Regions from separate parts of the Homo sapiens genome. Here region 2 is linked to region 1. A link means that fine-mapping ties the variant in region 1 to the expression of a gene that starts in the linked region. Tissue or cell type: blood mononuclear cells. Region 1 holds a variant in brackets; the other region holds the start of a gene. All regions are shown on one strand. Distances are from middle to middle.

Region 1 (8,107 bases):
TACAGTTTATTCTCAAAGGGCAATCTTATTTCCTCATTCTCAAGTCCTTAGAAGGTACTTCTCCATGATCACCCAAAATGTTAACAAATTATAAGAAGGAAACATCTACCATTGGGTAAAAGCCTGGTGCCAACAGGTAAGTTTCACTCTCTTCTATAACCGAAAATTATAGGTAGCCATTCTAATCCTAGAATTGTCTGAAATTTGTCACAAATGGGTCAAACTGTGATCATGTAGATGGTTGAGTATAAATTTAATACCACTACTCAAAAGATAACTGAACAATTTGCTTTTGAAATTGTCTCTAGGCCGGGAGCGGTGGCTTGCACCTGTAATTCCAGCACTTTGGGAGGCCGAGGCGGGTGGATCACAAGGTTAGGAGATCGAGACCATCCTGGCTAACACAGTGAAACCACGTCTCTACTAAAAACACAAAAAATTAGCCAGGGATGACGGCGGGCGCCTGTACTCCCAGCTACTCGGAAGGCTGAGACAGGAGAATGGCGTGAACCCGGGAGGCGGAGCTTGCAGTGCGCCGAGATCGCACCACTGCCCTCCAGCCTGGGCGACAGAGCGAGACTCTGTCTCAAAAAAAAAAAAAAAAAAGAAAAAGAAAAAGAAATTGTCTCTAGTTAGAGTCAGGGCCGGTCTAAAAAGTAGGAGAAGTGAATACCTTTGCTCATGAAATCACAACATGGTAGCAACAGCTGAAATCCCCATTTTTGCCGAAAAAGAAACTGGGGCCTAGAGAAGTTAAGTGATTTTGCCCAAGGCTGGGGCTCTTAAATGTCAGTGTGTGAGGACTCAAACCTCTTAAACCTCTTAACCAGAGTCTAGGCTTTTTTTTTTTTTTTTTTTTTTTGAGATGTAGTCTCGCACTGTCGCCTGGGCTGGAGTGCAGTGGCATGATCTCAGCTCACTGCAACCTCCGCCTCCCAGGTTCAAGCGATTCTCCTGCCTCAGCCTCCTGAGTAGCTAGGATTATAGTCGCCTGCCACGACGCCCAGCTAATTTTTTGTATTTTTAGTAGAGACGGGGTTTTACTATGTTGGCCAGGCTGGTCTTGAATGCCTGACCTCGTGATCCACCCGCCTCGGCCTCCCAAAGTGCTGGGATTACAGGCGTGAGCCACCGTGCCCAGATGAGTCTAATCTTTTAACCATTACACTATTGATATGATTTAAGAAATATGGGAAATATCCCTGTTGTAAATATACTGTCATGTGTCACTTAACATTGAGAATATGTTCTGAGAAATGCATTGTTAAGCAATTTCATCGTAGTGCAAACATCTTAGACTGCACTTACGCAAACCTAGATGGTATAGCCTACTACACATCCAGGTGATAGGGGATAGACTATCACTCCTAGGTTACAAACCTGTACAGCATGTTACTGTACTGAATACTGTACGCAACTGTAACACAATGGTAAGTATTCGTGTATCTAGATGTATCTAAACACAGAAAAGGTACAATACAAATACAGTATTATAGTCTTATTTTGGGGGGTAGAGGTTGGAGTCTCACTCTGCTGCCCAAGCTGCAGTGCAGTGGCATGATCCCGGCTCACCGCAACCTCCGCCTCCTGAGTTCAAGCAATTCTCCTGCCTCAGCCTCCCGAGTAGCTGGGATTACAAGTGCCCACCACCATGCCTGGCTAATTTTTGTATTTTTAGTAGAGACAGGGTTTCACCATGTTGGCCAGGCTGGTCTCAAACTCCTGACCTCAAGTGATCCACCCACCTTGGCCTCACAAAGGGCTGGGAGTCTTTTCTTTTATTTTGGGCTTTCTGGCAAAAACCAAAAAGCCTGCTTCTAAAAGAGCTGTAACACTGCTATTACAGTCTTATGGAACCACTATTATATTTGGTCTATCATTGATCAAAATGTCATTATGTGACACATAACTGTATTTCCCCATTATCTTTCAGGATGTCTGAAATATTATGATTCATTTGGTCTTGACAGCATGTATTTCTGGGAAAAGTGAAGCCAACTCTTTTCAGAATCTAGGGAGAAAAAATCATTATGTTCTTTCTTTATTTCTGTTACTAACACCTTACTTCAGACCACCATCATTTCTCACCTGGATTATGGCAACAGCCATCCGGCTGGTCTTCATGCTACCTTGGTTGGCTCCTTGCAGTCTGTTCTCCACATTACAGCCAGAATGATCTTCCCAAAATGCAGGTCTGATCATGTCACTCCCCTGCCTGAAAGCTTTCAGGGGCTCCAGATTGTCTTCAGCATGGTCTACACCAGTGTTTCTCACACATTAGGCAAAACCTTATATAACACACAATTTTCATCATTCCCCCACTCTCCTAAAAGTAAATTCATATAGAAATGTGTGGATAGGCCAGGCATTGTGGCTCACACCTGTAATCTTAATTCACTGGGAGGCTGAGACAGGAAGTTTGCTTGAGCCCAAGAGTTCGAGACCAGCCTGGGCAACACAGTGGGACCCTGTCTCTACCAAAAAAAAAAACAAAACACACACAAAAATTAGCTAGGCATGGTGGCACACAACTGGGGTCCCAAGTACTTGGAAGGGTGAGGTCGGAAGATAGCTCATGCCTGGGAGGTCAAGGCTGCAGTGAGCCTTGGTTAGACCACTGTGCTCCAGCCTGGACAACAACGCAAGACCCTGTCTCAAAAAAAAAAAAAAAAATTGCCCACAGGCACGACTGAGGGGCCTAACCACACTCCCACACTCATATCTCTGTGAGCCTCATTAATTTCGCAGACCTCACAAAGCTCAGACTGCTCTGAGCCACCTTTCTTTGTTCACCCTGATTAGTTTGCCTTGGGCTTTAATCCTCATAAACTGCCTAAATACCCAACACTGTACATACAATGGTTTTTGTCAATAGTTTTTGTAGAAGCCACTTTCTCTGCCTGGAACTCTTTCTTTCCAGCTTTATCTGACTAACTCCTTCTCATTCAGGTCCCTCCTTAGAAATGCTTTCCTCGGGCAGTATGGCCATTTTCACAATATTGATTCTTTTTATCCACGAGCATGGAATCTCCTTCCATTTGTTTGTGTTCTCTTTTATTTCATCGAACAGTGGTTTGTAGTTCTCCTTGAAGAGGTCCATCACATCCCTCATAAGTTGGATTCCTAGGTATTTTATTCTCTTTGAAGCAATTGTGAATGGGAGTAATTTATAGATTCAATGCCATCCCCATCAAGCTACCAATGACTTTCTTCACAGAATTGGAAAAAACTACTTTAAAGTTCATATGGAACCAAAAAAGAGCCTGAATTGCCAAGACAATCCTAAGCAAAAGGAACAAAGCTGGAGGCATCAGGCTATCTGACTTCAAAGTATACTACAAAGCTACAGTAACCAAAGCAGCATGGTACTGGTACCAAAACAGAGATATAGACCAATGGAACAGAAAAGAGCCCTCAGAAATAAAACCACACATCTACAACCATCTGATCTTTGACAAACCTGA[T/C]GAAAACAAGACATGGGCGAAGGATTCCCTATTTAACAAATGGTGCTAGGAAAACTGGCTAGCCATAAGTAGAAAGCTGAAACTGGATCCCTTCCTTACACTTTATACAAAAATTAATTCAAGATGGATTAAAGACTTAAATGTTAGACCTAAAACCATAAAACCCTAGAAGAAAACCTAGGCAATACCATTCAGGACATAGGCATGGGCAAGGACTTCATGACTAAAACACCAAAAGCAATGGCAACAAAAGCCAAAATAGACAAATGGGATCTAATTAAACTAAAGAGCTTCTGCACAGCAAAAGAAAATACCATCAGAGTGAACAGGCAACCTACAAAATGGGAGAAAATTTTTGCAATCTACTCATCTGACAAAGGGCTAATATCCAGAATCTACAAAGAACTTAAAGAAATTTACAAGAAAAAATCAAACAACCCCATCAAAAAGTGGGCGAAGGATATGAACAGACACTTCTCAAAAGAAGAAATTTATGCGGCCAAAAGACACATGAAAAAATGCTCATCGTCACTGGCCATCAGATAAATGCAAATCAAAACCACAGTGAGAAACCATCTCACACCAGTTGGAATGGCAATCATTAAAAAGTCAGGAAATAACAGGTGCTGGAGAGGATGTGGAGGAATAGGAACGCTTTTACACTGTTGGTGGGACTGTAAACTAGTTCAACCATTGTGGAAGACAGTGTGGCGATTCCTCAGGGATCTAGAACTAGAAATACCATTTGACCCAACAATCCCATTACTGGGCATATACTCAAAGGACTATAAATCATGCTGCTATAAAGACACATGCACATGTATGTTTATTGCGGCACTATTCACAATAGCAAAGACTTGGAACCAACCCAAATGTCCATCAATGATAGACTGGATTAAGAAAATGTCGCACATATGCACCATGGAATACTATGCAGCCATAAAAAAGGATGAGTTCATGTTCTTTGTAGGGACATGGATGAAGCTGGAAACCATCATTCTGAGCAAACTATCGCAAGGACAGAAAACCAAACACTGCATGTTCTCACTCATAGGTGGGAATTGAACAATGAGAACACTTGCACACAGGGTGGGGAACATTACACACCAGGGCCTGATGTGGGGTGGGGGGAGGGGGAAGGGATAGCATTAGGAGATATACCTAATGTAAATGATGAGTTAATGGGTGCAGCACACCAACATGGCACATGTATACATATGTAACAAACCTGCGCATTGTGCACATGTACCCTAGAACATAAAGTATAATAATAAAAAAAGAAGAAGAAGTGCTTTCCTCCAAGAAGCCTTCCCTGACACCAATGAGACATAACCTGCTGAACTTCCTCTGTTATAGCACATGTCACATTGTGTCTGCGCCCCTTACTGCTTTGGCCACCTCCTCCTAGAGGATGAGTTTCTTGAGGGCATAGAGTATGCTGTGGTCACTGTCACACACACAATGATTGGCACAGATCTGACCTTCATAATGAAAAAGAAAAGGAAGTTGGAGAGCTTCAGTGACTAATTTGGGTGAACTTGTTTATATTTCTACTGAAGGAAACTTTGGGAAAGGAAAACAATAAGGTTAGGAGTACTAAAGGTCAGTTATTATTTTTTAGAGACATTATTTTGCAAATGTATAAAAATGAAAAAAATACACATATTTTGAAAGTATTAAAATGGCCTTTCAGCTGGAACCGCCGTCTTCCAGTAATTCGCCAAAATAACGAACACAAAGGGAGAGAGGAGAGGCGCTGGGTAGATATTCTCTAGGCCGTTTAGAAAACGTGGAGTTGTTCCTTTGGCCATGTATATGCGAATCTGTGGCAGGCCAACTCTCCCTGACAATTGCACAGACGGGGCTGCATGACAGTCACACAGACAGGCCTGCATAGCACTCCAGTTAGACAGACAGGTTTCCATAGCACTGCCTTAACATTGAGCAAATAGTTAAACCTAGGGAAATCAGTGCCCAGACATCAAAGCTAGAAATGAAACATATGGTCAGTAGGAGCCTTGCATGGGCTTCTCCCTAACCTGGAGCAAACCAAAATAATAGAGACAGTCATACATTCCTTGTGCCAGGAGTCGACGAAATCTGAGACGAGTCAAGGTAACAGAGGCAGCTGTTTGAATAGATTCATTGGAGAGTCTAAGGCAGCTCGCCAGGCCAAGCCGTAAAGGAGATAAGATAGAAATAATCACTCCAGTATCACAGTAGACAGGCCTTGAAGGTCCTGGGGCCCCCACAGTTTAATCAGACTTAGCAAGCATTTTTTTGCCTCCGACCTTCTAATTGAAACAAAATTAGCTACCAATAGACTTAGGTGAATATTAGACTGGTCTTGGGCTCATAACCTCAACCTACATAAGCACTAAGAAAATTGTAACACTTTGAATTGGTCTGGTGGAATTATCTCGGGCCTTCTCCCTGTATCTGGTTACAGCAATAAATTCCCTTCTTTCCTAGTTTGTCTGCTTCTCATTATTGGCGGGCCTCGAGAAAACACAGCCGGACCCGGCTTGGTTCTGGGAACAAATCTGTAAGAAAGGTGATATTGTAGACATCAAGGGAGTGGGCACTGTTCAAATAGGAATGCCCCCCAAGTGTCACCATGGCTAAACTGGAAGAGCCTACAATGTTCCCCAGCATGCTGTTGGCATTGTTGTAAACAAACAAGTTAAGGGCAAGATTCCTGCCAAGAGAATTAACGTGGGTATTAAGCACTTTAAGCACTCTACAAGCTAAGAGAATTTCCTGAAACGCATGAAGGAAAATGATCAGAAAAAGAAGGAAGCCAAAGAGAAAGTTACCTGGATTCAACTGAAGCACCAGTCAGCTCCACCCAGAGAAGACAATGTGAGAGAACCAATGGGAAGGAGCCTGAGTTGCTGGAACCACTTCCCTATGAATTCATGCATAATACATATATACACATATATGTGTGTGTACATATACATATATACATATGTGTGTATATATATGTATATATATGACCTCTGGACGGAAAAAAAAAGTAATAAAATGTAAGAAACCTGGTAAATATGACCTCAGGTAGGTCATCAAGGTAAACATCAACAGTGAGAGGTTATGCTGGTAGTATGTACCCTTGATATGTGTGATGAAAATGGTACTCCACCGCTGTAGTTTTTGTAGGAGTGAAGGGAAAACTTCCTCTTCACCCTCTGAAGGTTCACTGAAAAATCAACTGACAAAGGGCAGATTTTTTTTTCTTTTCCTGAGACAGGATTTCCCTCTGTCACCTAGGCTAGAGTACAGTGGTGTCATCATGGCTTACTGCAGCCTCAGCTTTCCAGGCTGAAGCCATGCTCCTACCTCGGCCTCCTGAGTAGCTGGGGACCACAGGCAACACCACCATACCTGGCTAATTTTTAAAATATATATATTTTGTAGAGATGAGGTCTCACTATCTTACCCAAAGTGGTCTCAAACTGCTGAGCTCAATGATCCTCCAGCCACCAGTTCTCAAAATTCTGGGATTACAGAAGTAAACCACTGTGCCGAGCAAGATTAATAGGGGAAATGGTGTGCAAATTTATTAACGTGTGCAGGGAAGAACCACAGAGCGTTTCCCAACTATGCAATGAACTACAGATGGTTATATGCCCTTCTTTTTAGGGGAAAGGGAGATGGGGAAGAGTGGATGATTTTAGGAGAGTAGTAAATGGTATTTAGGGGAATTCAATGGGACCGAAGAACATACAATGGCCTGGGACAAAGTCTATTGGATCTGCTGAGAAAACAATGGTTTGTGACAAAAGTCTGTCCATCCAGGTGTGTTGACAGACTTCAGTCTTTCTTCCTGTGATTTGAGTTCAGTTAATAAAAACTCAGAGAAGGTACCAGAAATAACTATTTTCTTCTTTGGTGGGTCTGGACTTTAAGTAGATGAGGGAACTTCAGAGAACATCATCCCATGTTTACAGAGAGAAAAATAAGATTGAGAGCCAGGAGGCTGAGGGGAATTGCCGGGAAAGTCAGAGAGACCTTGAGGCTTTTTCTTCAATTCAGCATGTCAGAATGCCATATTTTGGAGTATTGGTTTCTGAGTCCCAACATTCTCGTCCCCTTAACCCATAAACCCAGTCTAATAATAAGAAAAACATTAGACAAATTCCAGTTGAAGAACATTCTACAAAATATCTGATGAGTAGTCTTCAAAACTATCAAGGTCATTAAAAACAAAAAAAGTCTGAGAAATTGCCATAGCCAAGAGTAGCCCAAAGAAACATAATGACTAAGGCCAGGCACGGTGGCACATGCTTATAATCCCAGCACTTTGGGAGGCCAAGGTACGCAGATCACCTGAGCTCATGAGTTCGAGACCAGCCTGGTCAACATGGTGAAACCCTATCTCTACTAAAAATACAAAAATTAGCCGGGTGTGGTGGCAGGCACCTGTAACCCCAGCTACTTGGGAGGCTGAGGCAGGAGAATCACTTGAACCCGGGAGGTGGAGGTTGCAGCAGTGAGCTGAGATCGTGACACTGCACTCCAGCCTGGACAACAGTGTGAGACTCTGTCTCAAAAAAAAAAAAAAAAAAAAGAAAGAAAGAAAGAAACATGATGACTAAATATAATCTGATATCCTAGATGGGGTTCTGAAACAGAAAAAGACA
Region 2 (8,107 bases), 61 kb after region 1:
TTATACTAGTATGTCACTAGTATATACTGTATGTCACACAATCCTGGGCCACTAAACAGTATTAGGGAAAAAATCATTAAATTGTGCAGATAGATAATAGTAAATTCAAGCTTCCAGCCTTACCTGCCAAACAATTCTAACTTTTTAAATCAATTTTCTGAATTCTGAGACTACTCTAAGGCTTCTTCAATTTCCTCAAATCTACCTACCACTTCCCTATAATTCTCATTGTCTTGTTTCATAGGAAAAAATAGAAACTATAGAAAGAACTTCTCCAACTTCCAGTACCAAACATTCCAGCATCTGCACCTATGCTTCCTTCCCTGCTTTCCTCCTCTGACAATGGAAGCACAGTTTGATTTGCTTCTAAAGGTCAATGACTCCACATTCTCTTCCGCTCTTTGTCGTCCTCACCCAATATCTTTAACTTCTCTCTCCACTGGCTCCTTTTCATCCATATTTAAATATATCTAAATATGGCCGGGCTCAGTGGCTCAAGCCTGTAATCCCAACACTTTGGGAGTCCAAGGCGGGCGGATCACGAGGTCAGGAGTTCGAGACCAGCCTGGCCAATATGGTGAAAGCCTGTCTCTACTAAAAATACCGAAAAAAAAAAAATTATCTGGATGTGGTGGTGCGCACCTGTGGTCCCAGCTACTCGAGGCGCTGAGGCAGAAGAATCACTTGAACCCCGGAGGCGGAGATTGCAGTGAGCCGAGATGGATCCATTGCACTCCAGACTGGGCTACAGAGTGAGACTCAAAAAAAAAAAAAAAAAAAAAAATATATACACACACACACACACACACACACACACACACACACACACACACACATATATATATCCCACATTCAAAAATCCCTCCTTTTATTCCAAGTACCTCCTCATTGTCTCGCGCGTCCGTGGGAAGAGACCACCAAACAGGCTTTGTGTGAGCAACATGGCTGTTTATTTCACCTGGGTGCAGGCAGGCTGAGTCTGAAAAAGGAGTCAGCAAAGGGTGTTGGGATTACCATTAGTTCTTATAGGTTTTGGAATAGGTGGTGGAGTTAAGTGCAATGTTTTGGGGGCAGGGGGTGGATCTCACAAAGTACATTCTCAAGGGTGGGGAGAAATACAAAGAACCTTCTTAAGGGTTGGGGAGATTATAAAGAAACTTCCTAAGGGTGGGGGAGATTACAAAGTACATTCATCTGTTAGGGTGGGGCAGAAACAAATCACAATGGTGAAATGTTATCAGTTAAGGCTATTTTCACTTTTTTTGTGGATCTTCAGTTGCTTCAGGCCATCTGGATGTATACATGCAGGTCACTGGGGATATGATGGCTTAGCTTGGGCTCAGAGGCCTGACACTCATCTCTTTCCGGCTCTCCCTACCCCATTATTTTTTAAAAGGTTGTCCATATTTGCTGCCTCTATTTATTCACTTCCCATTTGTCCTTTGTCACCATAATCAGATTTCTATTCTACACTCCAACGACACTGTTCTTATGCGCTTTATCAATAAACTATCCAATAAACCCTTTCAGGTTTCACTTCATTTGACCTGTTAGCTACCTAAGGTAGGATTGTTCGCTTCTCCATGAGACACCCAGTTTCCTAGAACTCCTCCTCTCTCTGCTTTTTGTGAATATTCTTTGTGGCCTACCTTCCTTTTCTCTGTCTGTCCTTAAATGTGGGGCTCCTCAGAGATTTGTGAAGGGCCCTATTTTTTCATACTGTATATTTCCTTCCCTCCTGTCGTCCATCTACACGCTAATCTGCATCTCAGTTTAGATCACCCTCCTGATACATATGTCAACATACCCATCCCATAGGCATTCTGCCTCCCAAGCTGTTTCTGCTGTGTTCTTTATCTCAGTGAAGGACTTCACCTATCTACCCAGCGTCGTCTTGTCTCTTTCCTTTTTAATTTTTCACTTTCAGTCAACTACTAAGCCCAAGCCATTCTGCTGAAGTAGCTCTCAATTTCAACTGACATCCAGGCCATGATTATGTCACACCTTAAAGGGTCCTCCAGTTCCCAATCTTGTCAGTTCCAACCCATTTTCCAGACGAAGCCAGAGTGACTCTTTTTTTTTTTTGAGACGGAGTCTCGCTCTGCCACCCAGGCTGGAGTGCTGTGGCACGATCTCGGCTCACTGCAAGCTCCATCTCCCGGATTCACGCCATTCTCCTGCCTCAGCCTCCCGAGTAGCTGGGACTACAGGCGCCCGCCACCATGCCCGGCTAATTTTTTTGTATTTTTAGTAGAGACGGGGTTTCACCATGTTAGCCAGGATGGTCTCCATCTCCTGACCCCGTGATCCACCCGCCTCGGCCTCCCAAAGTGCTGGGATTACAGGCGTGAGCCACCACGCGCCTGGCCCTTTTATTTTTTGAGACGGAGTTTCGCTCTTGTTGCCCAGGCTGGAGTGCCCTGGCGCGATCTTGGCTCACTGCAACCTCCGCCTTCCGGTTTCAAGCGATTCTCCTGCCTCAGCCTCCCGAGTAGCTGGGATTACAGGCGTCCGCCACCACGCCCGGCTAACTTTTTTGTATTTTTAGTAGAGACGGGGTTTCACCATGTTGGCCAGACTGGTCTCGAACTCCTGACCTCGTGATCCGCCCGCCTCGGCCTCCCAAAGTGCTGGGATTACAGGCGTGAGCCACTGCGCCCGGCCGCCAGAGTAATTCTTAAAAAATGTAAATTATATCATCCCACTGCTATGCTTAAAATCTTTTGGAAGTTTGTCTCTAGGATAAAGCTCTGAATTCCTTAGGATTGCCTTCTCAGTCTCATTTCTCCGTCCCCTCTCTTACGCTATTTTGAACTTTGAATTTTTAGAATACATGCTTGCAGCGTCAAAGCTGTTCTCTCAGCTGAAATACGTGTCCTCCTCCCTCCTTTTTCTAACCAACTTTGCACTCAACCTTCATAGCTTAAATTAAGTATCACTTCTAGGAAAATGACACCCTCTCAAACCCCCTAGTTTCAACTTCTTTGTAGAGTTCCTAAGGATTCTTGTACTTATCTAGCAATTAAGAGCATTATCTTGTAATTCACGTCTTTATCTCTGCTAGACTAAGTCCTTGGGAGGGCGGAAACCAGGTTAAACTTTCTATCTCAATAGCCTAAACTGAGCGCCTTACACACAAAACAGCTGTTCAAATAGCATTTGTTCAGCGAGTAACTATTTTCTTCTTTGGAATGATGGCGGCCAGAATACCAGAAAGATGGGGACTTAAAGGGGACAGAAAAATTAAATCTATAAGGAACAAGCGGGATGGAGTAAATAAATCTATAAGGAGCAAGTGGGTACGTAGGCTTTTCCATAAACCCCTCTAACCCAGAAGCCGGGGCTGCTCGGCTAGGGGGACCAGGCCGACCTGGCTGCCGCCTGTCGTGGCGACTGGGACTCCAGTGGGCTGCCGCTTGGAGTGCGCGACCCCCGGCGAAGCAGGACAATAGCTTGGAATTCGGCCTCGTGTTTCCGGTGAGGCAGCCTCGCGCTGGGCCGGTGAGGCCTGGGGTGGGGGCTCCGAGCCGGGCCCACGGCGAAGAAGGCGCAGCCCGTTGGGCTCCAGCTGCCGCCACCACCGCCTCCCCCGACGCCGTCGCTCCGCCCCGCCCCGCCCCGGAAGTGACTTGAGGCCGGTCCGGAACCTCTGGGCCCGGCGGCTGCAGCGTCACCAGCAGAGCCGGTGCGGGGCGGGCAGAGCGGCCGCTGCCGCCGCCAACGAACTGAGAGCCGCGTGGGGCCCAGCAGCACGCCGGCCAGGGAAGGGGGCCTAGCGATCGGTCCGAGGGCGACGGGCCGCCAGCGGCCGCAGGGCGACGAAGACGCGGAGGAGGCGGAGCCCGGAGAGGGGTGGGGGCCGGGGAGGGTTCGGGTGGGAGGGGGTGGGGGGGGTGTCCCTGGGCTCATGGAGCCGGCCGAGCGGGCGGGAGTCGGAGAGCCCCCGGAGCCGGGCGGGCGTCCCGAGCCGGGCCCGCGGGGCTTCGTCCCGCAGAAGGAGATCGTCTACAACAAGCTGCTGCCCTACGCGGAGCGGCTAGACGCCGAGTCCGACTTGCAGCTGGCCCAGATCAAATGCAACCTGGGCCGGGCCGTGCAGCTCCAAGAGCTGTGGCCCGGGGGCCTCTTCTGGACCAGGAAACTCTCCACGTAAGTGTGCCCGGGCCTGCGGGCCGGGCCGGGGGGAAAGGCTCAGTGAGAGGTGTCGGGGATGGTTGCTCTTTGTCCAGAGGGCTGGACCCTTAGCTCTGTCCTCGCTGGAGCTGTCCCCGAGCGGTGATCCCAGGGTCGTGACAGAGCCTGTGAAGTACTCAAGCCGTCCTCCCTGCCACTTTCCTACGGGACTTCCCGGGTCTTTACCATCCCTCTACGTCCTCCGCATCTGCTTCTCCCGAAGTGTTCGGGTTGTTGTCTTCCCACCTGGGGGGCCCTGGGTAGCCCAAGGGCCCCGGCCCCGAGGGAGAGAGGTGAGCCTTTCTCAAGGGTCCTCCGTGGACTTTTGCGCATGGGAGAGGCGGGGCAAAGAGAATTTGTCTTTGGGGGAGTTCCTTGACTTGTCTCCTTGCTTCCTCCGGTTCTTCCTTCCCCTACGATCCCCGCCTCTTCGCATCTCCGTTGGCGTCTAGTAACTTTCTGAATGGAGAGAAGACCATAGGGAAACTTAAGGGTTTTGCTTTTTGGGGGCCCTCTCAGACCTGGCGGAGTTGATCGAAAAGGGTCGTTTAAAGTCAGACCTCATTCTTGAGCTTAACGTCTTATGTGGACAGTGTTGTTTTGGATTGTGTGTTGCTCCTGTTGTGACATTTCTTTTGGAGAGACATTTAAGATACTGAGGAAAGTAGGGAAGAGCACTGTCAGGATGTCCAGGGCGATATTAGTATCAGGCTTGTGTTAATTTTTTGAGTTACTCAGATTAAGAGATTACCTAAATCAGTTTCAGGAGTTCTGTTTGTAAACTAGCTTCAAACTATAGTGTCACTGAAATTAGGAAAAAAAAAAAAAAAACGAGTGAAAATACAGTGGGGGAAAAAAGGTTACATTTACTTGCTGGATGGGCATCTTTACTGTGTCCGAAGAGCTTTTTAAGAAAGAATTTTGCTGTATCTTGTTTGGTTAACTGTACATAAAATCTAGTAACATGGTATGTTCACGCATGTGGGTATGGACGGGTGAACACACAAGACATAACTCACTCATTCAGTGTTTACCCAAAGCTGCTGATTGAACTGAGTGATGACTCAGGGTTTTGTAATAGTTTTGTGTATATTCACTGGATGATTCTCATCTGCCAATTATTAAGGGGCCTCTGACAAATTTCTCATTTCCACTTGAGGGGTGGGTGGGACCTTTTTAATTAAAAAGAAGCAAAACTAAAACATGTAATTTGCCCTCTTCAGAGAGTGATCATAAAATGTCAAGGTTAACAGCTCTCCCCTTGACTAGAGTATAATGAAGTTTTTCGTGTTAGGATCCTTAGGAGAATGGAGGTGAGGGGCGGCAGAAGCAGGAATGCAACAGGGAGAACCACGTTTAGTCAAAAAAGAATATTTTATAAATAGTTAAAATCCAAATGCTTTTTCAAGTGAGACTCCTAGGTTTTTGTGTTGCTCAGGCACAGTAAAAATAGTCACTTTGTTACAGTAATTCCCCATTTTAATCACTTGGATTAGACTTGCCAGAGAATACCTACCATTTTTGGGGACGCAAACAGCTTTTTTTAGTGTACATTATATAAATATGCCATGGTGTGAAGGCATATCTGCTTTGGATTTATAAACCTAGAATCTACCAAGGCATAGTTAAGCATTGTTTTCTAAAGTATTTATTGTTAACAAGTTTGGTAAATTAGCACTCCGAGTTTTGTTATTGTTTTGGCTTATTAGATAAAAGTTTGTACCTAGAAAGGGCTAAAAATAACAATGGAGCTAATGTTTGGTGTTTAGGGCTGGATTGCAGATAGCTGATGGCTTAATACCCATGAACCCATAACCATTTATAGCTAAATAACCAGCAAGAAATGCTACTGGGTAGAATTTTATTTTGGAATAGTGGTTAGATGCTGGAAACTGATTCTTGATATTGCACTATGAGACATTTTGAATGCGGTGGGACATGTTGTGATCTTGGGTGTGTTTTTTTCCTAAGTCATGTTAAGGTGACCTGTTCATAGTTGTGCTTGTTGTTTTTTAAGCCTTCTGTGTTGCATAAGTGAACATCTGAATAATGCCAAAACGTGTGACGAAAGCTGAGTGGTGATCATATTTAGTACTTTGTAGAATAGAAAGTGGTAATGAAAAGAAAATCTAGTTTCTCCCACTAGCTCTGAGACTGTGGGAAAGTTACTTAATCATGTGTTTCAGTATGCTTGTGCGTGAAATGAGGGGATTGGACTAAATAATTCTTTTTTTTTTTTTTTTTGAGGTGGAGTCTTGCTTTGTTGCCCAGGCTGGAGTGCAGTGGCAGGATCTTGGCCCACTGCAATCCCTGCCTTTCGGGTTCAAGCGATTCTCCTGCCTCAGCCTCCCAAGTAGGTAGGATTATAGGCGAGTGCCACCATGCCTGGCTACTTTTTTTGTATTTTTAGTAGAGACAGGGTTTCACCATGTTGGTCAGGCTGGTCTTGAACTCCTGACCTCAAGCAATCTGCCCACCTCGGCCTCCCAAGGTGCTGGGATTACATGTGTGAGCCACCGCACCCGGCCTGGACTAAATTCTTGAGAAGCATTTCTACTCTGGTATTCTGCAGTTTTATTTTTTTAATCCTGTCAAGCTTCACATCAGTCATTGTGTGTATCTTTCTACAAGAACTGTTTGAATAATTTGTAAAATACTGGAAACAGTTGCATAGATCAAGTACATTCCTAAAGACCAAAGTGTAAATGCAGTTGAGAGTTAGTGGGACTATCTTGCTGATCAGAAATGTGCACCCGTAATCTGGACATCAGAGGTGTGTTTGGGACCAAGTTCTGGTTTGGAAGGTTCTCAGGCTTTACATTTGGTCCCTCTTTTTGACTTTTTTTTTTTTTTTTTTTTTTTTTTTTTTGAGACAATCTCACTCTGTTGCCCAGACACAAGATAGTGTAGTGGCACTATCGTGGCTCACTGCAACCTCCACCTCCACCTCCCTGGTTCAAACGATTCTCCTGCCTCAGCCTCCTGAGTAGCTGGGATTACAGTTGTGCGCTGCCACGCCTGGCTAATTTTTGTATTTTTAGTAGAGACGGGGTTTCACCATTTTGGCAAGGCTGGTCTCGAACCCAGGTGATCTGTGTGCCTCGGCCTCCCAAAGTGCGGGATTACAGGCTGAGCCACCGCCCCAGCCTTCTTTTTGACTTTTTTCTTCATTTTTAGTAGTTCAGTCCATTTAGAAACTTGCAGGTCTGTTTAACATCTCTGAAGAAAGGTTATTTCTATATTTTTAAATACTTGGCCATGTGATAGAGGCTTTCCTGTACAGACAATTTAAAGTACTAGAACTGTCTGGTCAAGAGAGGTTGTGTGATGTAACACATCACAAGGGAAATTTTTAATAAGGGAAGAAACAAATCAGAGAAGTTGAAACAAATTAGAGAAAGTAGGAACAAATTAATGGTCTTTGGACAATGGCAGACAGCTCATGGACACTGTGAGTGAAATATTGGTAGATAACTTGTATGGCCCATGTAGAGAATGAAGGGAGTTGAAGAAAGGTATTCTTAAAACTTGATTTTGTTATGCCTGTAATCCCAGCACTTTGGGAGGCCGAGGCAGACGGATCACGAGGTCAGGAGTTCGAGACCAGCCTGACCAACATGGTGAAACCCCATCTCTACTAAAATTAAGAAAATTAGCCTGGCATGGTGGTGCACGCCTTTAATCCCAGCTACTCAGGAGGCTGAGGCAGGAGAATCGCTTGAATCTGGGAGGTGGAGGTTGCAGTGAGCCAAGCGCCACTCCAGCCTCGGCAAAAGAGCGAGACTCCATCTTAAAAACAACAACAAAGAAAAAAACCCCAAAAAACTTGATTTTGCCCTCTTGCCTTTCTGGACCTTTCATGAGGGGCTGCGGGTGCTCGTTAGAACACCTCAGGTTATCTGTACGTGAGGTGTATCTGGCCTTGCCTCCAACA

What was found. PIP is the estimated chance that this variant, and not a neighbour inherited with it, causes the effect.
Region 2: it holds the start of PSME4, and the variant in region 1 is fine-mapped to the expression of PSME4 in blood mononuclear cells (TOPMed, PIP above 0.99).

The regions. Positions count from the first base shown.
Region 1 is chr2:54,027,765-54,035,871 of GRCh38, reverse strand. It overlaps a transcript of ACYP2 not described here, the pseudogene RPL21P30 and the pseudogene LOC124906138. Among named protein-coding and RNA genes, the nearest start is that of PSME4, 61 kb to the right of the region's middle. The variant T/C (reference allele first, on the strand shown) is at 3,465.
Region 2 is chr2:53,966,585-53,974,691 of GRCh38, reverse strand. It overlaps PSME4 (proteasome activator subunit 4), which reads left to right and starts at 3,699. Exons shown (of 47, transcript NM_014614.3): 1 at 3,699-4,149. The coding sequence starts at 3,908. It also overlaps a transcript of ACYP2 not described here. RefSeq lists enhancers at 3,181-3,230, 3,526-3,820, 4,087-4,851 and silencers at 3,431-3,820, 3,695-3,856, 3,831-4,030.